Homo sapiens: one gene and its partner. The protein of the gene in region 1 interacts with the protein of each later gene in a biochemical or structural test. Each region holds a gene or a part of one and is shown in the gene's direction. Other genes may lie near its edges.

The links.
Region 2: of the proteins of IFIH1 (region 1) and RNF135, one has a biochemical effect on the other in vitro, tested with the Homo sapiens proteins (one study listed by BioGRID).

Annotation. Positions count from the first base shown.
Region 1 is NC_000002.12:162,278,442-162,289,684, reverse strand, and holds part of IFIH1 (interferon-induced helicase C domain-containing protein 1), read left to right. Parts: intron 1-1,329; coding exon 1,330-1,550; intron 1,551-7,108; coding exon 7,109-7,319; intron 7,320-8,139; coding exon 8,140-8,357; intron 8,358-9,572; coding exon 9,573-9,689; intron 9,690-11,243.
Region 2 is NC_000017.11:30,985,252-30,996,494, forward strand, and holds part of RNF135 (E3 ubiquitin-protein ligase RNF135), read left to right. Parts: intron 1-2,692; coding exon 2,693-2,855; intron 2,856-8,588; coding exon of another isoform or gene 8,589-8,653; intron 8,654-11,243.

The DNA of each region.
Region 1 (11,243 bases):
ATTTTCCTACCTGTTCAGATAGTACTATCACAACAAGTTAAAACTCACTCAAATAGAATTATCCAGGGGCTGAAATGGAGCCATCAGCAAGTTTTTTGAAGTTAATGGGATTATGTTAGTTTAGTTTTATTGCAAACATTGATAAGAAAAAGAAGTTATTTCATGTGTGATGAAATATGGATAAATACTGTTATTTCATTTTTTCTTCTTATTATATAAGTCATAAAATGGGCTTTTAAATTGGTATAATATTTATGTTACTTCATTTCACATTATAAGCTATGCATTTTTTGATCTTTTTCCCCTGGTAATATAGGTCAATATGGTCACTTCTAAATAAAATATATTCTATCTAAAACAAGACATATTATAATAATTTTATTTTAATATACATAAAGTTTATGTTAGAACTTATTTTATCAGTATTTTAAATTTAAAATCCATGTTAATTGAAAATATTTTTAATATATTATACTTTGGATTTTAGAAAAAGTTGGAATATGTGGAGCCATAAACATAAGGAAGTAATAAAGATAACAATTCACAAATAAATGGCAAAAGTAGTCATGATTTAGTTTAAACCAACAAAATTATTTTTACCTTTCAAGGAAAACCTACCAATTAAAGGCTAGCATAGGAAGAGTTTTTTCCTCTACTCTCTAAATAACACTTCTGTACAACGTAGTTGCCTCAGATGGAAAAAGGAACTTGAGATAGATAGGGTGTCTGTGTGTGTGTGTGTGTGTGTGTGTGTGTGTGTGTGTGTGCTTTTTGGTATTTGGTTGTCAGATAAAGTTTCTACAAACGAAAGAAAATAGTATCAGCCATAATACCTTCTTTGCAATTAAAAAAAGGGGAAATACGGAATTGGGAGGACTAATGATTCCAACTTTCTCAGCTCCTCTTGATTTTGTAGGTGGAAGGGCTAAGTGAAACAAGCAGGGCATAGTGGCTCCACAAAGAAATGGGAAGTCTGATGCCTTAACAACTAGACCTGCCAATCCCGCACCACAGCCCTTTCTACAAATTCGCCTTGGCTTCACCCACTCTGTGAAAACACTCCCCCATGTTGCTCCTTCCAGTCCTCTTAATTAGTTGACTCCCTCTGCACCCCCACACCCCCAGACTCCTTCTGTGAGAGGGAGCCTGTGTTGTATTCTGCAGATGCAGAGAGCAGACATTAATTGGTACAGAAAAGAGAAAATGAATTGGTTTGGACCACATGTGAAAAGGAGTTTAAAGCACAAGAGGCCTACGTTCAGTTTCAGGCTTCCTAAGCTCTGTTATTTTGTTGTCCCTTCTCTTATTTTTCTTTTCAACCTTCTTCAGATGAAGAGAATGTGGCAGCAAGAGCATCCCCGGAGCCAGAACTCCAGCTCAGGCCTTACCAAATGGAAGTTGCCCAGCCAGCCTTGGAAGGGAAGAATATCATCATCTGCCTCCCTACAGGGAGTGGAAAAACCAGAGTGGCTGTTTACATTGCCAAGGATCACTTAGACAAGAAGAAAAAAGCATCTGAGCCTGGAAAAGTTATAGTTCTTGTCAATAAGGTATTCAAAGAACACATAACACTAGTTGATCATTTTCATTGTATTATTCTGAAACTTTTATATGATGGCATTTGTGTCATTGACTCACACATGTTTAGTTTAATTAAGAGTAATGTCAAAATAAGCTCTTTATTTTATCTTTAATCTTTTTTAGGTATATGTAATATCTAAGTGATGAACCTGAAAATAGAAATTTTTCAATAAAACTAGGACATTATACCAAATAGCTATAACTTATGTAGCCCCAACACCTGGGAGTTAGTTTTGATTCATCTGCTTCCTTTATTTCCCTTATCTGGTCACAGGTTATATTTACCCAGATATACTTTAAGGTTAACTAGCTAATTTATCATTGCAAATGAATATGAATGACCCCAAAATATCACTGGAATCAAGGATCAAATATTGTTTTTTACTTTCTCTTTAGCTGTTGACCCTTAGTCAAAGATGGCAAGTCCTCTTTCTCCAGAATACATATAATGTGGTTTGGAGATAAAATTAAGTGAAGGTTTGGTATCTACATCAAGTTAAATAGATTTTAAAATGCTCAAGAAGTATACATATATATATATAAAATATACACATATTACATTAAATGCAACTGAAGTTTTCCTTCAATAATTTATATCTTAGGGTATTTGAAGGCCATCTTCATAAGTAAATATGTCTGCTTCACCGTAAAACAAAATCTAGTCATTTGAGCTTTATTCAGATAAATGACAGTTTATTAATTTATAAATATACAAATTGGGGATATGAATATTTACTATTTTATGGAATAAAAATGAGCATACTTTTCCTTGATCAGAAAGTCTTTTTTCTGTTCTTATCTATTCCTTTATAAAAAAAAGCAGTAGACTGTAAAATATTCTATTTTTTATTTCTATTATGCTAAAAGTTTTAGTTACATCCTGTTTTTCAGTACTTAGAATCCATGATTTGAATGATTCCTATCATGTAGTTCCAAATGCATTTTGTGTGCATCTGCTAAGTCCAAAGAGCTCTCCTTTATACTTGTATACTTACTATTAAAACACTTTTATTTATTTTGCTGGTAATGGTGACACATTCAAATTTGTTTGCCGATAGACTTGCATATGTATTCCCTTTGTACAGGATATTATTTTTTTAAATGAAATAGGTTTGAATCCTATTTCTACCTACCGGTACTTTGAATTAGACAAATTAGTAACTTCTCTAACTTTAATTTCTTCATCTGCAAAATGAACAAAATAATAACTACCCTGCTCTGAAATTTCAATTGGATTATATATGGCCTAGTAATGACTCCTGCTTTTACTCTTAAATACTAGCTTTCTCCTGCTCCTTTCTCTTCACCTTCATAACTCATGAAACTAAGTAACATAACCAGGGAGGCTTTTAAGTGCCAAATCCAAAGAAAAGAACCAAGTTAACTGGATTCAAAGCTACTTAAACTGATAATTTTGAAACCATTTGAGCATCTGCCATTTTCTCAAACTCAGCCTCACCATCTACCCTCCCAAAGGCTCCTCTTCCCCATTTACCTGTCTCTTTGTGAGTAATACCACCTCCTCCAAAGCATGCAGCCCCCACACCTAGGAGTTAGTTTTAATTCATCTACTTCCTTTATTTCCCTTATCTGGTCACAGGGACATAGGCTAATAGAGTTGAAAAGGGGCTTCGAGATTCAGCTTTCTTCCTTTGCAGAGTGGTTCTCTCACTTCTGCAGGGTAACTTCCTAATATCAAGGAGGTCCCCCTACTAACAAGACACTGACACTCTTAGAAAGCCCTATTTGTATTCATCCAAATCTGTTTCTCTGGAATCCCACAATCACCGGTTAGAGTTCCTTCCTCTGCAACCACACGAAGTCCTAATTCTCCAGCCTAATGACAGCCCTTCACATAGACAAGGCAGCATCATGTGGCTCCTAAGTTACTTTTTTTTGTTGTTCCTTGGAATAAATGTCCACAGTTCCTTTAACTGTTTTCCATATAACATGGTTTCTAAACCTGTCATCATTCCTAGTGCTCATACTCCTTCAGACATTTTTCTGGGACACTCTTAAATGCGGTGTCCAGAGTTGGGCAAAATACTACAGATAAGATCATACCAGTGCAGAGCGTAGGAGACATGAGATATGACACCCAGCTTATGACCGCATTTGCCTCTGGCATCCACAGACTTATCTGGACCTTGTCATAGAATCAAAATCCTCAGTTCCTTTTTATTTGAAAATCTCTTAAACTAGAACATTCTTAATTTATTTTTGTGCAGTCAGTTTCTGAGCCTAAATTCAAATACTTAGGTTTATTTCTTTAACTATTGATCTTTTCAAGTCTCATATTTTTGTATGTGTCTGATGCATCTTCCTTTCTATAATATTCCCTTCTCTTCTCAATGCTATATTCTAGCCAGGAATCTTTCATTGCATTGGATCTACATGATTCTTCGGAATGCACATTTATGGCTATGTTTAAATATTAATTTATCCTCATTAATTATTCACATTCACTGCATTGTTGTGTGGACACCTGGGGACTTGACTCTAATTCCTTATTGCTTTTCTATTGTTTTTCTCCTTAGAATTACTAGAAATCCCTCCACTAATTCTTCCATCTATGTCATAATTGTTTACTATACCATCTTTTTGAATTTTAAATTAATTTCAGTTTTAATTCTTTTTGATTGAGTCAGAACACCTCTGGCCCAGTAAGTCTAAGTAACCTGAATCTTGTGTTTGGCCCAACAACAAGGTATTGTTACCCTTGATCTAGAAAAAAGAAATCCTGTTCTCTAACACCATTTACTTTCATCTCCCTTCCTCCGTCCTTTCCAAAGTTATAGCCTTCGAATGCAGAGAGAAATGAAAACACCACCTGTGTTCCCAGACTTTCCATTTCCTATCTAGGGCTTCAACATCATGAGAGATAAATCCCAGGTTCCTTCAGATGCTGCAATGCAGCCCCATATGATTCAGCAGAAGTGGGTAGCAGTTGGGTTTGATTAGTCTTGGCAGGCACTCTGTCACATCTCAAGAAAAGGCTCCAAGAGGACCACACACCTCCCAATTAGCCATGTCAGACTTGCATCTGGCTTTCTCTGTGTCCTTCAGTAGGAAGTCAACACCACCCAGAGCGAGTATCAGGATTTCCAGCATCTGCTATCTCCTGTGACAACTTCTTTTTGTTCTGTACATCAGAAGGTGCGGCTTCTTTTGAAGATTTTTGACTCACCTTTTATGGGCAGAATTTTGTGGTGCAATGTCACTCCATAATACAGAGATTCTTAATTAAATCATTCAGCATGAGTGTATTTAAAGACAAATCAAATGTAGATCTTGTCCTCACGAAATATACAGTCTAGAAGAAAGATGAGAGATATATGTTGATAATATGATAATTAATATTTTATTGCACTTTATAAAGCACTCTCAGATATATTATCTCATTAAATCTACACAGCAACCCCATAAGGTAGTCTTTATTATTCTCATTTTTTCCCATCAGAAAACTGAAGTTTCAAGACTTTAATTGGCAATTCAGGGATCATCCAGCCAAGAAACAGCAGAAATGAGACACGAACTTTTATCTTCTGAGTCCACTGGTCTTCCTTTGCCACTGCACCCTCCTTCTAGAATAAAAGGATTGGTGAAATATCGTGGAAGTTTTAGTACTGACAATACAGCATCCTCTATTTCATTTAATTTTCACAACCCTATAATAGGTTAACATTATCCTCATTTTATTAATCTGGAAATTGAGAGCATTAAGATGATTGAGACCTTGTCCAAGGTACAAAGAAGTAAGTGGCTGGAGTAGCTGTTTTCAGGGCTTTCTTCCCTCTGCATCATGCTGTCTCTTTCCACTAAACTTAATTTCCATTCTTTTCCTCAGAAGCCTTCTGTCTTGCATAAATGAAATGGAAAGAATACTTCTAGAAAATGATTCAAGAACGGCTTTGTGGAAGAGAGAGAGAAGAGCAGAGCTGTGACTCTCAAATTTTAAAGGCTTAAATGTCATTAAAGTGAAGGTTTCAAGCCTCTGCCCCCCAGAGATTGTCCCTAGATTCAGTAATTCTTGAGTGGGACTTAGGAGTCTGCATTTTCTAAACTTCTCAAGCGTGTTTGTAACAGGTAGATTAGAGAGACTTTACTTTGAAAAAAAAAAAGAACTAAATGAAAGTTTCTCTTCTTACTCTTTCTACCCTTTCCACCTTGTGGTAAGGTAATGTTCTTTCACTCACCAACTTGATTACTGATTTTAAGTCCACTTTGCTTCCTTAGAATTTATGGATTTCATTTTAACTCTTCCCCACCCCTTCTTCCAGCCCCCCAGACACCTACTTTTGGAAGCCTCCATCATTTCCACTAAATAATAAAGTAAACCAGTGTTCTTCATAAGGTAGCTGTTCCCTTTAGCCAGGGGGATCAGCCATTCCTTATTTAACACCTAAGTGGGACTTACCTCAAGTAAAAAGATGAATAACACAAACCCTACAGACTAGGAGAAAGGTAACCACTGATTGCATTTCTGGTAGAATTATGGAGAGTGAATAATATAATGGGCATTCTTTGAAGCTTGCCCTTGAAACTCTTCCTGCCAACTCTCTGTTTCCCATATTGTACACTGCTGGGCTTCCATTGCATAAATCTTCCTAGGATATGACCTTCAAGATGGCCTTATATTTTTTCTCCTAATCCAGAAGGTATTTTGAGTGACTAGTAATGTGTAGCATTGAGGTGTCAACCCAGCTACCTTCAGCAGATGTTATAACATACAGAATCAGCTGAGAAGGACCCGAAGTTTCCACTTCTTTTGCCAGGTCTACTTTCGGGTTTGTTCTTTCTCAGCCACCACAGCTATTCCAGCAGCTCATTTCTTCACTTCACATCTGTTCTCCTAGTCAATGCCCTAACTCCTCACTTGTGGTTCCCTGATTCTTCCGGTCCTGTGGGCCTGTTGCTTCTGGTCTAATCCAAAACAAACAACAGGAATAAATCACTTCAACAGTACAACTTGTAGGGATCCTGTAAACTGTTATACTACATGTAAAATACTCTGCTTGATGTTTGCAGCCCTTTATAACCTGGCACTGCTCTACAAATTTAAAAATGTATTTCTTATTCAACCTTAGCTTCAGTTTATCTTTTCACTGACTCATGGCTTACTAGATTCAAATTCCTTCAAATTCCCCTTTTTTGAGTCGTCAGTTGCTTCTTCTCTTAACTGTCACTTTGTGTGTGTTTCTAGGTGAGCATTATTACATTGTGTTGTAATAATTTGTCTTGCTTTGTTTAGTCTTGGTCTGTATGATCAGCTAGACAGAGTTCCTCAGAGTTGTCAACCATATGTTAAATATCTTTGTGTCCCAGACATAAATGCCCACACCTAACAAGGGTATAATCAGTGCTTATTGACAGATGAATGAAAGGAGTGATGGGAACGTTGTTATGCCTGATTCACTGATAATGTAAACACCTCTTTTCATGCTGGATGCCAAACAGGCCTTTGATCAACACTCTTTTGGCTTCGACTAACTTTCTCTCTTTTAAAAAATCTTCACATTTTTTTAAGGTACTGCTAGTTGAACAGCTCTTCCGCAAGGAGTTCCAACCATTTTTGAAGAAATGGTATCGTGTTATTGGATTAAGTGGTGATACCCAACTGAAAATATCATTTCCAGAAGTTGTCAAGTCCTGTGATATTATTATCAGTACAGCTCAAATCCTTGAAAACTCCCTCTTAAACTTGGAAAATGGAGAAGATGCTGGTGTTCAATTGTCAGGTCAGTTTAAGTGTTTATTTTTTTAAAAAAATTAATAGTAATATTGATGATAACAAAGGCTGTATTTGTTAATTTTTTAAATGTTCGTGGCTTAAATTGTCTTTTATTGCTTATGGTTTTATTAAAATCCTTCTACTTCCTGGAGGAAACAAAAAAAGTAAGTTTTTAATTAGACCACTTTATTCTGCATAAGAATACCATTATTAAGGCAAGCACTCGCTGGACTTTCCATTTATTCTGACAAGTTCCTTTATTTGCTATTGAATGTTGTTAGATCTGCTTCCCTTTCCCATAGAATAAAAATACAAATCTTGTCTTTTATGGGGTATAGGATGAGAAGGTAGGAGAAAGAATGGAAAAAAATAAAAATAATTTATAATAACTAAATGCAATGTTAAAACAAGGCAAAATTTTCCCTCTTTAAATAGTGTGTTTTTCACTTGATGTAATAAAAATAAAATTCACCAACCTAAAATTAAATATTTTATTAAAGAACAAAAGTAAAATCCTGAGATTTGTTTTGTAATAAGCCAGGGTGTGAATTCCACATCTAACGCTTTTTAGCTCTGTAAACTTTCTGAATCTTATCTATTAAAGAAGGAGAATGTCTAACAGGGAGTTTCATGATTAGTATATACGAACGTCTGTGTGTACAGGTGCTAGTATAGTTAGATTTCCCTCCTAAAAACTGAAAGTGGACTGCTCTTGTGTCGTGCCCAAGAGAAGGCATCCCCAAGGCAGCTCAATTACTGGTCTAAAGCTATTTTCTCACTGTAGTGTGCTGATATGGAGAAATGAACTCTTTGAATTTTCTTTTAAGACTTTTCCCTCATTATCATTGATGAATGTCATCACACCAACAAAGAAGCAGTGTATAATAACATCATGAGGCATTATTTGATGCAGAAGTTGAAAAACAATAGACTCAAGAAAGAAAACAAACCAGTGATTCCCCTTCCTCAGATACTGGGACTAACAGCTTCACCTGGTGTTGGAGGGGCCACGAAGCAAGCCAAAGCTGAAGAACACATTTTAAAAGTAAGTCATAATTTTATGTATAACCAATGAAAGCAAAGCTAAAACAAATGCCAGGACTTCTTGGTCTTATTAAATAAGATTGAGTTCAAGTGCTGTGATCATCAGTTAAGTGAAATCTGTTTGCTTTAGTACAATAAATATACTCAGTCTTCTACAGAATACTAATATGCCTTAATAAATATCAATAACACAAAATCATATCATAAAAATGATGGAGAGTGATATAATTAATGGGAAGTTGAGATAAATAGAATGCCTTCTTTTGAACATCTACTCTTATGGTTAAATTTAATGATCTACCTGATATAGAAATATGCATAAACTATGAAAGTTTCTAGTTGTCACACATAATAAAGTCTTACTCCATGAGTTTCAAAACTGCGTATTTTCTGTCCTTCATATGTTATTCTAGGAATCTAGGTAATTCAAATTAAAGGGAAATAGGGATATGAAGATCTTTAAAGATGAGCTTGTCAGCTGCCCCCTAATGGTAACACCACATACAGTGCTACTGTTAATCTTGAGTGTTAAGTAAATCAGAGTAGCCCAAGAAGTATTTTGGTACCAAGGCAATTGCATTTGAATTTTAAGTCCCTTACTTTAAGTTGAATTCAATACAAATTATGTAGAGTAGACACAACATTCAGAGATGCAATTATAGGCTCCAAAATATAATTTATTACTGGGATTAAGGACTAATTCCAATCTAATAATCAAGGAACATGACTAAGGATGCTCCCAGCTTTATGTGTAGATGCCTGCTTTATGTGTAGAAGAAGGTGGTAGTATGATCCACGGATGTCAAGTTGACCTTTGATATGCCTCATGTAACATGGTTATCTCAAAATCATTCTCTGTCAATGATGGTAAATTGTTATACTCTTTCCATGTCAGTTTTCCACTTGGAAAATGGAATTTAAGGAATGAATATCAATACACCTTTTTCTCTGTTATTACACCAACTTGATTTAGAAGCTCCTTTTTCCTATATTAGGACAAATGTTGCTGATTGTGGGTTAATGAGATCCATAATAAAACAATGTTAAAATGCTATATTTAGCAAGCAATGCTACATATTACTTTCATGAAATTTTATACCACATATTTATGCTACAATTTAATGCTACATATTTTTTACATGAAAAAGAGTTCTACGTTGAATAAAGTGAAAGGGAAAAATAATTGCATAAATATTGAAAAATGTCTCTTTTCCAGCTATGTGCCAATCTTGATGCATTTACTATTAAAACTGTTAAAGAAAACCTTGATCAACTGAAAAACCAAATACAGGAGCCATGCAAGAAGTTTGCCATTGCAGATGCAACCAGAGAAGTATGGGCTTAATGTTTTATATCTATTGATTGACAATACTACATTCAGTAGAAAGATGGCAAAGGCTATTTTATACTGACCATCTGAAAAATATTATTTAAAAATTTTAGCAAACAAGTTTCAGGTTTTTTTTTAATTGATGTTAGGCAGTAAAGCACTACAGTGAATTCTCGCCTCTAGACCTCTTTTAGTTTTCTAATTTACATGAGGAATAGCTTATTCATTGTTTGTACATATGAGTTAAAAGGGACAGTGAGGGGCCATGGGCAGAGGGATGTGTAACTAAGCTGGAGGGGTTATGACAGTTCGTTTTAGCCTTTTTAATTTTCTTCGTGAATTCCAGGATTGATTTTCTGACATTCCACAGAGCCATTTTGTTGCTATCAAATTACATTTGGCAATGATAATGGGAATCCTATCTAATTTGCATACTTGCATATTTACTTTCTTAGGAAAACAGTGCAATGGTAAAGAAGTGAAATATTTACTTTAATGATGCTTTTCTGATGAATTTTTCAGGAATTATAAGAATAAACTGAGAGTCAATTTGGACATTATGGCCAGTAAATTATGTCAATACTTTATTTTGTAAAATTTAGAAAGCATTACAAATTCTGGCCATATGTACTTGATAATACCATTGAAAATAAGAATGTTGGGATCAAATGATATGAAATATGCATAGTAGATAAAACAATGCTTGAAATATAGTAGGCACTAAACCAATGTTAGTAACTAGCCTCCGTATATCTCTTTTTTTAAATTCTGAAAAAGACTGCTATCTACTCCAGCTGCACTAGCACAGTTGAATATATTTTATTCACTTTCCTTTTTTTGTTACTTATTTGGTTTTACTTGATAATTTTAAATGCATGTTTCTACTCATAAAGATTTTTAAAACTAAATTTCTCAGGTACATTTTTTAAAAGAATTTGCCATTTTTTAAACTTACTTTAATTTTTTTATATACCTTGAAGCATAACATACATACAGAAAAGTACAAATTCATATGTGTACTGATTGCTGAATTTTCCTAAACTGAATACACATATGTAAACAAAATCCAAATCAAGAGACAGCACACTGCCAGTATCCTAAAAGCTCCTGGCTCCCCCTTCCAGTCACCATGCCCCAGGAATCACTACTATCTTGACTTCTAAAACAAAAAATGAGTTTTCACTGATTCTGAACTTTATATAAATGGAATCATATAGCATGCACTCCTTTATTTCTGGCTTTATTCAGACTCTACTTCAACTTTTTATTTTGGTCGAAATAATACTGAAACCAGTTTTACAAAGGAGGAATGTTTCTTAAATTACACTGTAAGCTTTCTAAATAATTGTGGCATTAATGCAATATGTGTTTTCTAAGTTACCTTTAACATACAAGGTTTATATAATTCATTAACTTTACTTTTGTTAACCTTTTAAGTTGGAGATTCCAGCAGAGGTAACAGGGTGTTGGTGTGGGTGTGGCTTGATGGCAGGCTTAAAAGAGAAGCTGACAAAAATAAATGTACAGACAAGTGATGGGACACTAACCTGTTACTTT
Region 2 (11,243 bases), on another chromosome or scaffold:
TAGTCTTCCCTGCATCCATGGCTTTAATGACCACCTCTATGCACAAATAATAGCTCCAGGCTGGAGCCTTCTCTGAGCACTAGGCTGCTATGTCTTCCTTCTCATCTTTTCTTCTTGGGTATCTCAAAGCATCACACTTAATGCGTCCTAAACTGCTCCTCTTCTGGGATTTCTCATCTCAATGCTTGCCCCATTATCTTTCCAAGTACAGAAGCCAGAGACCTGGAAATCATGTTACCTTCTTCTCCCTTACCCTAATATGCAGCATATTGTAGCTTTAAGACCTGCCTAATTACCTCTCAAATCTATTTACTTATTCTTGAGCTCCTTTGAGACTTGCTCTAATCCAAGCCTCTGATAATTTCATGTCTGGATTGCTGTCATAGTCTTCCAAATGCTCCACTCTCCCTCTTCTAGTCTGTTTTCCTCATGGTCATCACAGTGACTACCACAAACATCAATCTGAAAATGTAACTCATCTGCTTAAAACATTCAAATTACATCAGTTTGCTCAGGAGTAAGACCCAAATCCTCACAGGACCAGCAAAGCCCTGTAGGATCCCATCTCTGTCTGCCTCTCAAATCTCATCTCTGCTCATGCTGCCTGGCTCTGTGCGCTCTAGCTACACTGGCCGCACAGTCGCTCTAGTGTGTCTCACGTCTTCCCACTACAGGGCACCCTTCATGGAATGCTCTCCTTTCCCTCCATCACTTAGGTAATACTTGCTCATCCTTCAGATCCTAGCTAGAACGTCATTTCTTCAGAAAGAAGCCTTCAATGATTTCCTTGAACAAATCAAATCTCCCCATTAGAGGCTCTGAGGACTCCATGTACCTTTCATTTGTAGTGGTTATCACCATTGCACCTTTGTAATGTCTTGTGCCATACTCTATATTAATGTCTGCCCCCCTCCCTTTTCCTTCACTGGACTCTCAACTTCAGGAGGATAGGGACTTTTGATGCTTTTTTTTTTTTTGAGACAGAGTCTTGCTGGAGTGCAGTGGCGTGATCTCAGCTCATTGCAACCTCCGCCTCCTAGGTTCAAGTGATTCTCCTGCCTCAGCCTGCCGAGTAGCTGGGACTACAGGTGTCCGCCACCACTCCTGGCTAATTTTTGTATTTTTAGTAGAGACGGGGTTTCACCATACTGGCCAGTCTGGCCTCAAACTCCTGACCTTGTGATCCACCTGCCTCGGCCTCCCAAAGTGCTGGGATTACAGGCGTGCGCCACATTGCCTGGCTGATGCTTTTGTTCTTTTGTCCACCATTGTGTCCCCAGGCGCTAGCACAGTACCCAAGTACCCACTTACAGTAGGGGTTCAACAAATACCCACTGAATGTATGGATAAATCCATCTTTAGGGATGCGATGTGTTGGGATAGAAACGCTGAGAGTCTGACTTTCAGAATTGACATTGTCACTCACTAGTATTATGACCTTGGGCAAGTCATTTCATCTATCTGCGTCTCAGGTTCCTATCTGTAATATAGAAATAATGATACAGGGCCTGCCACATCATTGGTTTATTGTGAGGATTAAAAGAGGTATAAGAAAGTGCTTGAGCAATGTTAAAATGTGGGATGTTATAATTAACTGTGGCAATTTAGTTAACCTTCATGAATTTCATCTTCTTTTGTAAAACGGAGATTTTTTACAGGTTGATAAACCTACTTTGTGAGGTTGTTATGCAAATGAGAGAAAGGCAATATCTAGCATGTAGAAAACACTCAATAAGTGTAATACTACCGTATTTTGATTGGTGGAAAGAATGGGGAGTGGATTATGCAAAGGTGGGAAGGAAAGGGGTTGAAGTTGGTGAGCAGATAAAGGGCTGTATTGGGGAAGAACAGGACCTGAGGCTAAAGAAAATCAGGGAGCATGTGTTGAAGGCCCTAGAAAGCAGGACCTGGATGCAGGCAATTTGAGAGGGAGCTCTTGCGAAGTGAAATGATATAATGATAGAGGTGGGAAAAGGTTCCTTTTTTTTTTTTTGTGAAATGGAGTCTTGCTCTGTCGCCCAGGTTGTAGTGCAGTGGCATGATCTTCTCAGCTCAGTACAACCTCTACCTCCCGGGTTCAAGTGATTGTCCTGCCTCAGCCTCCCATGTAGTTGGGATTACAGGCACTTGCCATCATGCCTGGCTAATTTTTGTATTTTTAGTACAGACAGGGTTTCACCATGTTGGCCAGGCTGGTCTCGGATTCCTGACTTCAGGTGTTCTACCCTCCTCAGCCTTCCAAAGTGCTGGGATTACAGGTGTGAGCCACCACACCTAGCCGAAAAGGTTATTCTGACCTCCATGGTTTATCTCAGTAACTATCTGTAGTATTTATTTTATAAAGCCCCTATAAGATGCGCCTAGAAATGTTAAACTTTTTTGGTATTACCTAAGAAATCCATGTTTATTGTGCAAAATATTAGAAAGCACATAGCATTAAATAAAGCAAATTAAAGTGCTCCATAACTCCATCACCCAGAAATAACCACTCTTTGATATTTTTGCTGTACTATGTACAGCAAATTATTCCAGATTTTTTTCAAGGCATATTTTTTGAGGGCCTAATTTTGTTTTTAAAAACTTGCTGGGAATTAAATAGAAAATTATAGATGAATAGAAAAACTTGAATATAATAGTTGATAGACTGCATAGGGGACTTCCATTTATTCAGTTTTAAATGGTTTATCAATAGGCTTTTTCTTCTGGGGTGGATCTTTCCATGGCTTCTCCAAAGCTGGTGACTTCCGACACAGCTGCAGGGAAAATCAGAGATATTCTCCATGACCTAGAAGAAATTCAGGAAAAATTACAAGAAAGCGTCACCTGGAAAGAGGCTCCTGAAGCACAAATGCAGGGTGAGCTGATCTTATTTATTGGAGGAGGATTAAATATGGAAGTTGGGGGGAGTAGCAGAGTGCTCTATGGCTTTGTTCTCTGGGGATAGGATCCCAGAGTCCAGCTGTATTACCACTGTGGTGTCGTGAATCAGGTAGGGGTGGGCTGAAGTGATTTTGTGGCTGAATATGTTTTTGGCAATGACTGAAGGTGTGATGTATCACAAGTCCTTAATAGATAGAAACTCATTTTTGAAGATCCATGCACACAGGTCCTTACTGATCAAGTGTGTTATCTTACTGCAGAGATTCTGAAATAGGCCACTTTTAATTTTTTTTTTTTTTTTTTTTTTTTTTTTTGTGATGGAGTCTCACTCTGTCGCCCAGGCTGGAGTGCAGTGGCACCATCTGGGCTCACTGCAAGCTCTGCCTCCTGGGTTCATGCCATTCTCCTGCCTCAGCCTCCCCAGTAGCTGGGACTACAGGTGCCCGCCACCATGCTGGCTAATTTTTTGTGTTTTTGATAGAGACGGGGTTTCACCATGTTAACGAGGATGGTCTCAATCTCCTGACCTTGTGATCTGCCCGCCTTGGCCTCCCAAAGTGTTGGGATTACAGGCGTGAGCCACCGTGCCTGGCCTTAAATTTTTAACTAGTAAATGTCTTCTTCTTTTTTTTTTTTTTAATAATTTTGTTTTGTTTTTGTTTTATTTTGAGACAGAGTCTCACTCCGTCACCCAGGCTGGAGTGCAGTGGTGCGATCTTGGCCAGAATTACAGGCGTGCGCCACCACGCCTGGCTAATTTTTGCGTTGGTTTTTTTTTTCTTTTCTTTCTTTCTTTTTTTTTTTTTTTTTTTTAAGTAGAGACAGAGTTTCACCATGTTGGACAGACTGGTCTCAAACTCCTGACTGCAAGGCTCACCTCAGCCTCCCAAAGTGTTGGGATTACAGGCGTGAGCCACTGCACCTGGCTGTAAATGTCTTTCTTAACAAAGCATATAGGCCAAGTGCAGTGGCTCACGCCTGTAATCCCAGTGCTTTGGGAGGCTGAGGTGAGAGGATCTCTTGAGGCCAGGAGTTCAAGACCAGCCTGGACTACAGAGAGAGATCCTGTCTCTACAAAAAATAAAAAGTAACCAGATGTGGTGGTGCACACCTGTAGTCCCAGCTACTCTGTAGGCTGAGGCTAGAGGATCACTTGAGCCACGGGTTCAAGGCTGAGTGATCATGCCACTGCATTGCATCCTGGGCAACAGAGGGAGATCTTGTCTACAAACAAAACCAGCATGCCACTTTGTAACTAGTTCTTGATACAGTCTATTAAAATATAATCTCTGGGGAGTGTGTTAATGTTAATATTAAACAGTACCATATAGAAAAGAACCTTTCTGTCCTGATCCTGTAGTTTCTCTGTTGTTCTTCCAGAGTTATTGAAAAATAACTAACACCTTCCTGTCAGACATTAGACGTTAGCTCTGTCTGGTCTCCCAGGGTTCTTCCTCCTGCTCTGGCCACTGCTATCTTCATATGCTTTAGAGGCATTTCTTCTGTAGCTTTTCCTCTTCTGATAGCTTTTATATCCTTTATATTTTCATATTTAAACAATCTTATGCTACTTAAAAAATCATTTCTGGCCAGTGCAGTGGCTTATGCCTGTAATCCCAGCACTTTGGGAGGCCGAGGCGTGTGGATCACCTGAGGTCAAGAGTTCAAGACCAGCCTGGTCAACCTGGCGAAACCCTGTCTCTATTAAAAACACAAAAATTAACTGGGCATGGTGGTGGGTGCCTATAATCCCAGCTACTCAGGAGGCAGAGGCACAAGAATCACTTGAACCTGGGAAGCAGAGGTTGCACCATTGCACTCCAGCCTGGGCAACAAGAGTGAAACTCTGTCTCAAAAAAAAAAAAAAAAAAAAAGAATCATTTCTTATGTAAGTGGAGAAGCATGATTCCTTGGAAAAAGTTTCTTTAGGAAAACAATTAGAGAGCAGTTTATTGTTCCAAAAATTATCTGAGAAAGAAGCACCTTTGTATTCTGTGTGCTTCTAAACTTAGGTTGGGTTCCTTAGTGATTTTATTTATACAAATTTAAGATCAATTTTTAAATTTTGGGGGGTTAAATTTAAAATTTCATATTCAAAAATCAAAACAGGGCTGGGCGCGGTGGCTCATGCCTGTAATCCCAGCACTTTGTGAGGCCAAGGAGGGTGGATCACCTGAGGTCAGGAGTTCGAGAGCAGCCTGGCCAACATGGTGAAACCCCGTCTCTACTAAAAATACAAAAAATTAGCCGGGCGTGGTGGCACACTCCAGTAGTGCCAGCTACTCCAGAGGCTTAGGCAGGAAAATTGCTTGAACCCGGGAGGCAGAGGTTGCAGTGAGCCACTGCACTCCAGTGTGGGTGATGAGCGAAACACCATCTCAAAACAAACAAACAAACAAACAAAAACAGTATAAAAAGGGCATACTGCCCAGTCTCTCTTCCATCCTTGCCAATTGCCCCATTCTCTCTTCTCAGTGCACCACTTTTATTACCGTTTTTTTGAGTGTCTGTTCAGAATTTATTTATGCAAATGTCAGCGAATATGAATTTATATTTTTATTTCTCCCAATCTTTTTTTAATACACAAAAGATAGCACATTATATACATTGTCCTGCATTTTGCTTTTGTCTTTTACTTTATACATCTTTATTTTATAGTACAGTAGTTAGGACATTTTTCCTTGCTTTTGTTAGTACCTAGGGCATTTTCTCTTACAGTTGCTCAGTATTCCAATATCTGGGTATGCCAACATTTATTTACTCCATCCTCTGCAGATGAATACGTGATTGTTTCCAATTGTTTACAATGACAAATAATGCTAAAATCAATAACTGTGTATGTACATTGTTTCATATGGGTGTAGATATATTTGTAGCTCAAATTGCCAGTGAAGGTTGCTGGGTCATAGGGTAAATTCATTTGTCATTTTGATATACATTGCCAAATCACCCTCCAGTTGGGTTATACCAGTCTTCACTCCCACAGAAGAAGTGTGTGTCCCCAACCTGCCAACTGAGTATGTTGTCAAACATTTGTCTTTTTTTTTAAACCAATCTCATGGGTCAAAATATTGATGTGAAATTAGCCAGTCTTGGTGGTGGGTGCCCGTAATCCCAGTTACGTGGGAGGTTGAGGCAGGTGAATTGCTTGAACCCGGGAGGCAGAGGTTGTAGTGAGCCAAGACCGTGCCATTGTCCTCCAGCCTGGGCAACAAGAATGAAACTCTGACTCAAGAAAATACATTGACGTGAGAGTATACTGCGCGTTTTTTTTCTCTTTCTCTTTCTTTTTTTTTTTTTTTGAGACTGAGTCTCGCTCTTGTTGTCCAGGTTGGAGTGCAGTGGCCCGATCTCGGCACACTGCAATCTCCGTCTCCCAGGTTCAAGTGATTCTCCTGCCTCAGCCTCCTGAGTAGTTGGGATTACAGGCACCTGCCACCAGGCCTCACTAATTTTTGTACTTTTAGAGATGGGGTTTCACCATGTTGGTCAGGCTGGTCTCAGACTCCTGACCTCAGGTGATCTGCTTGCCTCGGTCTCCCAAAGTGCTGGGATTACAGGGGTGAGCCACCGTGCCCGGCCTATACTACACTTTTAATTTGTGTTTCTCCATGAATTGTCTTTCATATCTTGTGTTATTGGTCTTTTAAAAATTGACATTTAGGAGCTCTTTGTAAATTAAAGAGATTAAACTTTTGTCTGTTATATGAATTGCAAATTTTGTTCCTTAATATGTCATTTGTCTTTTTATTTATCTTTTATGGGTTTTATAATGCCATATAGACATTTTTAAATTTATGTAATTTTTTTTTTTTTTTGAGAAGCAGTTTCGTTCTTGTTGCCCAGGCTGGAGTACAAAGGTGTGATCTGGCTCACTGTAATATCTGTCTCCTGGGTTCAAGTGATTCTCCTGCCTCAGCCTCCCAAGTAGCTGGGATTACAAGCCTGTGCCACCACACCTGGCTAATTTTTGTATTTTTAGCAGAGACAGGGTTTCCCCATGTTGGTCAGGCTGGTCTCAAACTCTTGACCTCAGGTGATCCACCTGCCTTGGCTTCCCAATCTGCTGGGATTACACAGGAGTAAGCCACTGCGCTCGGCCTTTACATAATTTTTTATAGAGATGAAATCTCACTGTTTTGCCCAGGCTGGTCTCAAACTCTTAGGCTCAAGCAATCCTTCTGTCTCTGCCTGCCAAATTGCTGGGATTACAGGTGTGAACCACCATGTCTGGCCTCAATTTTTTTTTTTTTTTTTAGAGACAATAGACAGAGTCTTGTTCTGTTGCCTAGACTGGTTGACTAGAGTGCTGTGGCAATTCCTGGTCTCTAAATGTTTCTTTTTTATTTTTTGAGACAAGGTCTTACTTTGTTTCCCAGGGTGGAGTGCAGTGGTGCGATCATGGCTCACCCCAGCCTTGACCTCCCAGGCTCAAGTGATCCTCCCTCCTTAGCCTCCTGAGTAGCTGGGACTGCAGGTGCGTGTCACCGCACCTGGCTAATTCTTGTATTTTTGGGTAGAGACAGAGTTTTGCTATGTTTCCTAGGCTGGCCTGGAACTCCTGGGCTCCAGCAATTAGTTCACCTTAGCTGCTTGAGTAGGTGGGACTGCAAGGTGGCGCTACCACACTCAGTTAATTTTTTGTTTATTTTTTTTGTGGAGAAGAGGTCTTGCTTCTATTTTCATGTAGTAAATTTTGTTCATTTTTTCTTTTATGCATTGTAGATTTTAAGTTTTAGTTAGAAAACTCAACCCCCTGAAGTTTAGAAAGGAATTTTCTCAGGTATATGTGTGTGTTTGTACTTACACAGTTTACATTTAAATCTTTGGTTTCATGTTTTACATTTAAATCTTTGACTCACTTCAAGTATATCTCAGCATGTATCCTAGTGCATTTTGTTTTATTTGTTTATTATTATTATTATTATTATTATTATTATTAATTTTGAGACAGAGTCTCACTCTGTTGCCCAGGCTGGAGTGCAGTGGCGCGATCTCGGCTCACCACAACCTCCGCCTCCCGGGTTCAAGCAATTCTCCTGCCTCAGCCTCCTGAGTAGCTGGGATTATAGGCTCCCGACACCACATCTGGATACTTTTTGTATTTTTAGTAGAGATGGGGTTTCGCCATGTTGGCCGGGCTGGTCTTGAACTCCTGACCTCAGGTGATCTGCCTGCCTTTGCCTGCCTTGGCATCCCAAAGTGCTGGGATTACAGGCATGAGCCACAGCACTTGGCCTTATTTATTTTTTAAATAGAGACAGGGATGTCACTTTATTGCCCAGGCTGGTGTTGATCTCCTAGCTTCCAGCAATCCTTGTGCTTTGGCTCCCAAAGTGCTGGGATTACAGGCATGAGCCACCATACCGAGCCCCTAGTGAATTTTAAGTAAGATTTGTGTAGTGCCACTTTAGAGACATATCTCATAGCATTTTCATGTTTAATGATATTGCTCTGCTTAAAATGTTGCTCTTAACTGGAGAACCATGATTCTTTGGAAAAAATTTCCATGGTTAAGTGTAGATTATTTCTCTCATCAATAGAGATAAAAAAAGTATTAGGGAGTGTTAATTTAAAAAAAAAAAGTAAATAACTTCAGTAGGTTTTGCAAATGCTTTTTAAAAAATTTTTTTCCTTTCTTTTTCTTTTGTTTATAATCTGCATTCTGCTGAATTAATTAATTAATTAATTTTTTTATTTTGACACAGGTTCTCTGTTGCCCAGGCTGGAGTGCAGTGGCACAATCACTGCAGCCTCGATCTCTCAGGCTCAGGTGATCTTCCTTCCTAAGACTCCCAAGTAGCTGGGACTACAGGCATGTGCCACCACACTCAGCTAATTTTTTGTACTTTTTGTAGAGATGAGGTTTTGCCATGTTGCCCAGGCTGGTCTCCCACTCTTGGGCTCAAGCGATCCTCCTGCCTCAACCTCCCAAAGTTGTTGGATTACAGGCGTGAGCCACGGTGCCCAGCCAAACATTTTTTAAAAACCTATTAACAATAAGTAATAATCGTATCAGCAAAATAGGAGAACAGTGATATTCATCTGAATTTTGTGTTTTTCTAAATTGTAGTGAAAATACATACAACATAAAATTTACTATCTTAACTATTTTTAAGTAGGCAGCTCAGGCAGGTGCAGTGGCTCATGCCTGTAATCCCAGCACTTTGGGAGGTTGAGGTGGGCAGATCAGTTGAGTCCAGGAGTTCAAGAGCAGCCTGGGTAACATAGTGAGACCCACTTCTCTACCAAAAATACAAAAACTAGCCTGCTATGGTGGCACACACCTGTAGTCCCAGTCCCAGCTACTTGGGAGGCTGAGGTGGGAGGATCACTTGAGCCTGGGAAGCAGAAGTTGCAGTGAGCCGAAATCAGGCCACTGCACTCCAGCCTCGGCAACAACAACAAAAAAAGTAGCAGCTCAGAGCTCAGTACTGTTAAGTATGTTTACATTATCATATAACCAATCTCCAGATCATTTTCTTTTTTGTAACTTTATTTTATTTTATTTTTTTTTTTGAGACAGAGTTTCACTCTTGTTGCCCAGGCTGGAGTGCAATGGCATGATCTCGGCTCACTGCGACCTCTGGCTCCTGGGTTCAAGCGATTCTCCTGCCTCAGCCTCCCAAGTAGCTGGCATTACAAGCATCCACCACCACACCTGGCTAATTTTTTTTATATTTTTAGTAGAGACGAGGGTTTCACCATGTTGGCCAGGCTGGTCTCAAACTCCTGGCCTCAGGTGATCCACCCGTCTCGGCCTCCCAAAGTGCTGGGATTACAGGTGTGAGCCACCACGCCTGGACTGTAACTTTAATTTTAATTTTTTAGGATCAGGTCTTACTTTGTTGCCCAGGCTAGAGTACTGTGGCACAACTATGGCTCACTGTAACCTCAATCCTCCTGCTTCAGCCTCCCCAGTAGCCAGGACTATAGGCCCACACCACCATGCTCAGCTATTTAAAGAATTGTTTTGGCCGGGACAGTGGCTTACGCCTGTAATCATAGCACTTTGGGAGGCCGAGGCGGGTGGATCACTAGGTCAGGAGATCGAGATCATCCTGGCTAACACGGTGAAACCCCGTCTCTACTAAAAATACAAAAAAATTAGCTGGGTGTGGTGGTGGGCGCCTGTAGTCCCAGCTACTCAGGAGGCTGAGGCAGGAGAATGGCGTGAACCCGGGAGGTGGAGCTTGCAGTGAGCTGAGATTGCGCCATCGCACTCCAGCCTGGGCGACAGAGCGAGACTCAGTCTCAAAAAAAAAAAAAGAATTGTTTTGTAGAGACAGGGTCTCATTATGTTGCCCAGGCTGGTCTGGAACTCCTCCTGGCCTCAAGTGAGCCTGCTGCCTCAGCCTCCTAACTAGCTGGGACTATAAGCATGGGCCACCATGCCTGGTTTCATGTTGCAGAATTGAAACTCTATACCCATTAAGCAACAATTCCACATTCCTTCAACCCCCTCCTACCTGGCAACCACTATTCCACTTTCTGTTCTATGAATTTGACTATTCTAGATACCTCATGTGAGTGGAATCATACAGTATTAGTGTGTGAGAGGTTTATTTCACTTAGCATAATGTCCTCCAAGCTCACCTATGTTGTAGCATATATCAGAATTTGTTACTTTTTTTTTTTTTGAGACGGAGTCTTGCTCTGTCACCCAGGCTGGAGTGCAGTGGTGCGATCTTGGCTCACCGCAACCTCTGCCTCCCGGGTTCAAGCAATTCTCCCACCTCTGCCTCCCTAGTAGTAGCTGGGATTACAGGCATGTGCTACCACCCCTGACTAGTTTTGTGTGTGTGTGTGTGTGTGTGTATTTTTTAGTAGAGATGGGGTTTCGCCATGTTGGCCAGGCAGGTCTCGAACTCCTGACCTCAGGTGATCCGCCCGCCTCAGCCTCCCAAAGTATTGGGATTACAGGCGTGAGCCACCACGCCCAGGCAGAATTCATTACTTTTTTTTTTTTTTTTTTTTGAGATGGAGTCTCACTCTGTTTCCCAGGCTGGAGTCAGTGGTGCGATCTCGGCTGACTGCAAACTCCGCCTCCCAGGTTCAAGTGATTCTCCTGCCTCAGCTTCCCAAGTAGCTGGGATTACAGCCATGTGTCACCACACGCAGCTAATTTTTGTATTTTTAGTAGAGATGGGGTTTCACCATATTGGCCAGGCTGGTCTTGAACTCCTGACCTTGTGATCTGCCTGTCTTGGCCTCCCAAAGTGCTGGGATTACAGGTGTGAACCACTGCGCCCAGGCAGTATTCGTTACTTTTTAAGGCTAAATAATATTCCATTGTATGTATATATCACATTTCTTTATCCATTTTTCTGTCTCTGGACACAGGGATTGCTTCAGTTCCGAGT